Homo sapiens: one gene and its partner. The protein of the gene in region 1 interacts with the protein of each later gene in a pairwise test. Each region holds a gene or a part of one and is shown in the gene's direction. Other genes may lie near its edges. The genes, in order: DAZL and PUM2.

Region 1 (3,919 bases):
TTTTAATCTCCTCTTCTGTGTTTTCTGTCTTTATTTCTGGTGTCTGATGTGTATGTGCACCTCTCTCTGACACAAACATACACCCAAGTTATCTATTTCTTTACAAGTTGAAAAAACTCCCACGGAAACTGAGCCAGGTATCATTAGGTGTTTTTTCTCAAGATTGTTTTGTAAAAATTTAAATTTCTCTACAAGTTTGTCATGTCGTTGATTTCCAAATTTATTTCTATAGAGTTTATGCATAGCATTGTTTTATAATCTGTGGTCATAACCCATTTCTCAGGTCTCATATATCCTTTTGCTTTCTTGCCTTTTCTTGCTTAGTTTTGCCAGGATTGTTTATTGCTTGAATTTCATCCTCCCCACCCCCAACTCCCCAAGAATCTACTCTTGGATTTACTTAAAGTTTTGATTCTGATTTTCATGTCATATTTTCTTAATTTTAGCATTCTCTTTATTCGTTCCTTCCTATTGGTGTGAACGTAACTTTGATAACTACAAATTATAGCCTTTTTCCTGGTCAGTTTATATAAATCTCAGTTTGCTTTCATGTTCACATAGTAATTGAATTAGATAATACTGTGAAAGAAGCTGACATCCCAGGAGTTACATAATAATTTTTTCCAGCTTTTAGCTGTCTTTGTCACTTGGTTGTCCAAATATAACAAGGAATATGTTTGCTATAAATAACAATGAGAGTTGTGTATATGATGGTCTTGAAGCTCACCCGTTTACTATTCCAACATTTCTCATTTCAAAATTCACCAACTCACTTGAAGGTATGATTAAGAAAATTACTTCTTTAATGCAGTTTGTTTTCAGGATGCTATTGACAGTTACGATGGTACTTTCTTTAAAATTAAGCTTTTGCTTATCCTAAGCATTCATTTATATTTTTGGCCACGGTTTCACCAAAGTTTGTCTATTGATTGTGGATTTTTATATATACATTATAATTATGTATAAATACAGTAGGAATTTAACAACCCTTGCTAATCAAGCCGTGGTAAAAATGAAGTACATTGCTTACTTTGTTAGCTTTGAGCGCCACCTGCTGGCTGAGAACTAGGACATGATGGTGCCTCCTTAATTTAAGATGTTATTACGCTATTAAAGTGATCCTATGAATTTTATATTTACGATTCCAGTTAAGCAGGCAGCCAGTTTGTAAGATCCAAGCCAAAGTCAGACTTCCTAATAATATCAAATGCCTCTTTTCCTCTTTACCAAACTACTGTTGTCGCCAAGTATCCGTTTTACTCTTGTATAGGGTATGAGAATTAGAAGAGACACCAGAGATCTTTTCCAACCATTCATTTTCAAGCAAGGAAACTGAGGTCCTGAAAAGACTTACTTTACTGAACAATGGAAATCAGGTTCTTCCCAAACAATAATTTTCCTCCTCAATTCTTGTGGCACTGTCACAAGGTTTCTTAACCACACCCTATTCAAATTTTGGACCAAATAGTTCCTTGTTGTAGGAAGCTTTCTTTGCATTGTAGGATGTGCAGTAGTATTCCTGGCCTTCAGCCCATCAGATGCCAGGAATACACCTCAGTTGTGACAAGCAATCTCTAAACGTTGTTAAATGCCCCCAGGGCTCAAAAATCTTCCCCAGTTGAGAATCAATGCATTATCATGACCTCTTATAATCTGACACAGTTTTCTGCCAGATGTTACACTTCTAAATTAAAATACATCCAAACACTGTGATGCAGAGACAATACTGTATATATAGCTTGTTTATCAAAGAAAAACATATCCAAAGTTCATCCACAAATCAAGGGGGAATTGAAAAGGAGAAAAAACTACAAGAATTTCAGAATTTATTTTGTTTTGTTTTATTCTGTTTGGGATTTCTGAATGAACTGAGAAGGGATTGGTAAATTGTCTGTAGGGGGGAAATCTAATCAGGTTCCTAATAGTTCAAGATACGCAGCTTAATGTCATTTAGAAAAACAACGTAAGACATTTTTAGAAAGGAAAAACTGTAGAAATAGTTTTTAAATTTTTCTTCCACATCATTGTCATGAAATACCACTATTAAAAGAAAGAATTAGGAATTATTTACAAACCCAAAATAGCAAGTATAAGCACAAACGAATAGAGAAAAGCAATAAACTCAGCTTTAGTTGATTTGACAATTTAGATTTCATCTCTAGTAAAGCTGTGTAGAATCAGTAACTTCTAGCATCTAATTAACAAAGCAGGAACTCTACTTTCTTATTAATTCCTATAAAATTACTGTGCTTTTCAAAAAGATAACAGTTGCTTTCTTTTGTCTTGTTTTCTTTCAGACAGGTATATGTGTAATAGCTTTCTCTTTTGCAGCTTTTTGTAGTTACCTTTTGTAGTCAACAGGCACTTCACCAATGATTTTTAAATTAATGATGTTTCATAGTTTCCTGATGTTTCAATTCGTTCTTAATTAAAAGTATCTTCAAGATAAGTCAGCTAAAATAGTAAAGCCAAAAAAGAAACTTGAAAAAAAATCTGAAAATAAATTCAAATAACAGGACACTAACTTATATTGATATACCACTTTATACTTTACAAAATGAATTCACAGATGTTATCTCATTTCCTTCTCAAAGCAGTTTGCCCAGAGATACACGGCTGGCAAGTAAGTGGCTTGTAACCACTTACCTGTAAGGGACATAAACCTAGATCTCCTGACTAAATTAATTTTTGTTTCACTCTGCTATATTGCTTCTCCAACATATATATTACTTACAAATTCTACTTCAGAAAATTTTACATTAGCCTTAGAGTCTACTGCGGAAAGAATAAAGACAGTTCTGATCAAAATCCAGAAAAAATGAGTTATATGTGTGTTTCTTTATCTGAAAATAAAGATGGTATAATTTATATCTGCCTACTGTGATAATTAGAATTATCAGTGGGACTGATTTGGTGTTAGGAAGAAAAATGTTATTTCAAAAAATGATTTGAACACCCTAGCATTAGGGAAGAGGATTATAATCCTTTTTTTAGAAGGAGCTGTGACATGTGAGCAAATAATGTTTCCATGATCCATTTCCAAAGTAAAGCAGGCATACTAACACAGCGTTAAAATTGTAAAAATTCATGTTAATTTTGGTGAAAAAGGCGAAGCAGGACAAATTGGTTTAAAACTTTGAGGCTTATTTTCTTTTTGATGTGGCTTTTTGGAGTTTTTTAATATTTGTCATCCTTTTTATTAGTGTACTCAGTAAAATGAAAAGTTGTTTATGAATATAGAACAGGATGATTTTAATTTTGATTTTTACAAATCTGAACTTTCCAATTTTGGGTTTGTTTTTTTTTTAAGTAATTCACATAGTATTTTCACAAATACTAAGTATTCTTCCACAGCATTGTGCAAGACTCGGTAATGAGCAATACTGGGTTTAAGAAAGTACTGTATCCTGGCTGCGCGTGGTAGCTCACGCCTGTAATCCCAGCACTTTGGGAGGCCAAGGCGGGTGGATCACCTGAGGTCGGGAGTTCGAGACCAGCCTGGCCAACATGGAGAAACCCCATCTCTACTAAAAATACAAAATTAGCCGGGCGTGGTGTCGGGCGCATGTAATCCCAGCTACTCAGGAGGCTGAGGCAGGAGAATCGCTTGAACCTGGGAGACAGAGGTTGCAGTGAGCCGAGATCACGCCATTGCACTCCAGCCTGGGTGACAAGGGCGAGACTCTCTCAAAAAAAAAAAAAAAGTACTATATCCTTTCATTAAAATTTCATGCTGATCTACTCTGATAAGTTTAAATCCTGAGCCTGAACTAACTTAGAATGAAAGTAATTTATATAAAATATTTTATACTTAAAATACAAAAATTATATTTCACATTATGTATAGGTTTTTCCTGTGTATCTAATTATGATGTCTACTTTCCAAATTACAGTCTACTGCAAATCCTGAAACTCCAAA
Region 2 (3,919 bases), on another chromosome or scaffold:
TGTTCAACTGCACAGGTCACGTGCCTGTGCTGAAGCTGGCCTTGTTCATGGGGATATCTGGAACATTAAATGAGACAATGTATGGAAAGTGCTTTGGTGCTTGCATGTTGTTAGTACCAAACAAATAACTATAGCTTACACGTGGCTTTTAGTAGGACTCTTGGTTGTAACAGAAATTCACTTTATCTAGCTTAAGCAAAGAAGCAGAATTTACCATAAGGATCCAGGAATGCGGCTCAGACTCCAAGGGTAGAGGCAGCCAGCCAGGCACAGAAACATGTGAAAGAGAGACATTGTCAGCACTCTCCTTTTCTCTCTCAACTCCACTCTTTCTCTACAGGTTCCCTGTCTTACAGGATGGAACCAGTCTGCCCAAGGGATCCCAGGTCCAAGAGACTTTCGAGGTTGGGGTCTCTTAGTCCCAATTCCATATTCTAAGGGAGGGCCTGTGATGGATTTATCTAGTTTCACCCACACTAAGCAACTGTATATAAAGACTCTTCTGCTATTATCAGCTCAACGGAGGGGAAAGGAGAAGGAAGGCAAAATGTGTACACCCCAGCATCTCCCATTCTTACTTGATCGTGAGACATTTCTTAAAGGAACATCTATTAACACTGAACACAGCACACTAGGGAAATGCTGTCGTGGGTGATGGGGAGCAATGAGATGGTTGAAGCAGAGGCCTGAGCGCCAGGAATTGGATTTGCATTTTAGATAGCAGTGAGCAGAACTGATTGGAGGGAGTGAGACTGGAGACAGGAAAGCTGATTAAGAGCCAGCTACAGAAATCCAGACCTGGGAAGCAAGGCTAGCATTAGTGAGGAGGCAGAGGAAGACTGTCTCCAGAATTACTTGGGAAGTAAAAATCTGCGAGGCTTGGTAAGTTATTTATATTTGGAGTCGGGGTAAGAGGAAGAGACAAGGATGGTTCTCAGAGGTGTAATTTGGGGAATGAATAGGTGGTGACACTGCCAATTACAGAGACAGTACAAGAGTGGGGGGTAGGGGATGGGTGTGACTTCAGTTTTTAACATGCTTGGTGACAAGAAAATTCAAGTGAAAATATCTAGAAGCCTGAAATATGAGCCTAAGGTAGGGGCTTGGGATGGATTTCAATGTCAGACATTTTTCAGTAATAGTTAAAAACCGAAGAGCCCATGTGTATTCAACAGGCACTTGCGGGCACAGTGTGAAACAAAACACAAGGTCCTTGCCCTCGTGGAGCTCACAGTCGCCTAGGGAAGACATATATTAAGCAAACTATACGGGAGGCCCTGAATATTTACGAAGTGCAGCATGTCAGGAGAGCCAGGAGCTGTGCAAACAAACCATCAAGAACAAATCGGACACGGTGCCTGTTACAGCTGTGTGACCTGGAGCCGGTTAGGTTAGAATCCTGGAATCACCACTGCTTTGCATGGGGGTCCAGGACAGCAAGGCAGATTTGGAGTTTCCAACTAGCCTGTAAACGGGGAAGGAGAGAGCGCTTAGTACGCGAGAAAAAGAAACAGCCAACGAGTGAGAATCACTGGCCCAGCTGGAGAACGACCTGAGTTTCCTTTGTGTGCACCGGGACCAAGCACTGGGGGCCGACAATTTGCTGAGAGCTGGCTCCACCTGCCTGGGGTGCAACCACGAGAAGAGTGACAGCCCTCTCGCAGGGTACAATCTTCCACCCCCAGATGCATCTCCCTCGTCTGGTTGTGGGGAGGTACAGAGTGAAAGTTAAAGGCCTGAATTAACGTCCGGCTCTTGTGGGCGCCAGCACTCTGGAAGCGAAATGCCAGGAGTACCCCACGGTGGGCGGCGCGGGCGCAGACACCCGCACACCCAGTTGGGGGAAAACAGTGAGCAACCGGGTAGGAAGCCGAGGGTAAGAAGATTCAGAAGGCGAGGCCCCACGCGGGAAGACAGTCGAACACAGCGTTTGGCAACAGTACGCCTGCGCTCTCCGAGCCCGCCGCGGCGGAGCCCAGGAGGGAAGCGCGAGCCCGCAAGGTGAGGGCGGGGGAGGGCACGCCGGAGAGGCGGCCAAACACGTGAGAGCGCGGAGAACGTGCGCACGCGCAGGGCGCCCCCGGCCCGCGCGGCGGCAGCGCGGGAGCAGGGACGCAAGGCATTAAAAGGAGCCGCGCCTTGGTGAGCGCTCCCCCTCCCCTTTCTCCCGGGGTGCACTGCGCGCGCCCGGTGGGCGGGGGGGAGGGGAGGGCAGGCGGCGGTGGCAGCCATGTTGTTGTGAGTCTCTGTGTCTCACCCTCGGTACTTCGGTGGTTCGGAGGAGGAGGGGGAGGAGAAGGAGGAGGTGGGGTGGGGGGGGAGGGTGGTAGGTGGAGAAAGAAGACATTGCCGCCACCGAAGGCGGAGGAGGGGGAGGACCGCCAAGAGCGACGCCGCCGTGTGCCCAACGGTCGGTGTCCCCGGCTGAGGCAGCGCGGCCGCAGCAGCCCTGTAAGTCAGTCCGCGTTCGCTCTTTCTCCGGTCCTTTGGCGCCGTCGAGGATGGCTCCCCAGGCTTTGTGCGGCGGCCTCGGCGGGAGCCGATCGCCAGCGGGAGGGCGGATAGGGCCTGCTGAGTGCCCGGGCCGGTGCGGCCTGGGGCCCGCTCGCACAATGCAGGGGGAGGGGTGCCGGAAGGGGGTGTGCGCGTGCGGGGGAGGGGGCGCCGCGCCGGCCGCTTTCCCGCTTCCTTCCCTCTGCGGGGCCGCCGCCTCGGGGGCGTGGGGCGCCGACCCGGTTCTCCCTCCGATTCGGCGCGCTGGAGGTTAGAGACCGAGCTGTCGGCCCTAGGGTTCGGAAAGAGGGGAGAGGCCGGGTGGCCCCAGAGAAGCATGCGGATTGCAAGTGGGTGAAGAGGAAGGAGTGGGTTTATGAAAACAAGTGTGGGCATTTTCAAAGGCCCGAGTGTGTCCGGGAAAAGCTTGCCGTGGACAGATGTGGGTATGAAGCAGTGACTTGGATTCGCCTTGTTTAGGTTATAGGAACGGATTTCGATATTCAGAAAAATATGTAAATTAAAACCAAAGACAAGATTAGCGGCTTCTACTATTTGAGCAGTAGTTTTGTATCTGAATTGGGTCAGGTTTTGGGGAAAATGTTTAAAGTTTCATGCCCAAACACGTGTAAAAGTTAGTGTTGTTTCTGAAAACACAGCCAGAGAAAACCTACTTAACTTAGCTTTTTATTCTAACATACGTAAACTTTTGAAGAGAGGAATGTATTGCCAGCATATTAGGTGCAATAAGACATCATGTTAGGACTTAGTACTTTGAGATTTTTACTTGTTGAGAAAACGGGGCAGATGTTTTGGTGAAGGAAAACATGAGAAAAATGCTTGTAAACGGTGAAGAGAAATGTAATACCTGTAAAGGTACTGTATGTCAAGAAAACAATTTTAATAAAGGGAGTTACCGAAGGATTTTAAAAGCTTGTTTAATGGTTAGATTTCGTGTTTAACAGGTGACTCTTCACCATGTGACCTGGAGTATTGGAAGATGACTTAAGGAATCCTGTAAATAAAAAAAAAAAAACAAAAATGAGTATTTTCAACTTGTTTCTCTTCCTAGCCTCCTTTTAAACAATGATTTACTTCATTTGCTCAATCATTATGAATAAAAATGATGGCATTTTCCGTGCTGCAAGAATTTCTTTAAAATTCCGATTTTTGGTGAAATTGCATTGTGTAGAATTTTCTTGGTGTGCATGAGGGCAGTTTTTGTATGCAGAAAAGGTTTACGATAATCTTAAAAATAAAATTTTATTTCAGAAACCTGGTTCTTGAGGATTTAAGTCCAGTTTTTAAATTTTGTTTACAGGTCTAGCTATTTTGAGTTATAATTGCCAGTAACTTACGCATTTTCCAGCAATTTAAGCTGTGTTTAACACATGCTTTCCTTAATTTGAGTCCAAAGTTCTCTTAG

Evidence for each region.
Region 2: the proteins of DAZL (region 1) and PUM2 interact in a two-hybrid assay, tested with the Homo sapiens proteins (2 studies listed by BioGRID and IntAct).

Annotation. Positions count from the first base shown.
Region 1 is NC_000003.12:16,598,573-16,602,491, reverse strand, and holds part of DAZL (deleted in azoospermia-like), read left to right. Parts: intron 1-3,893; coding exon 3,894-3,919. UniProt on the Homo sapiens protein: RNA-binding protein, which is essential for gametogenesis in both males and females. Plays a central role during spermatogenesis.
Region 2 is NC_000002.12:20,349,129-20,353,047, reverse strand, and holds the start of PUM2 (pumilio homolog 2), read left to right. Parts: upstream 1-2,203; 5' UTR 2,204-2,451; intron 2,452-3,919. UniProt on the Homo sapiens protein: Sequence-specific RNA-binding protein that acts as a post-transcriptional repressor by binding the 3'-UTR of mRNA targets.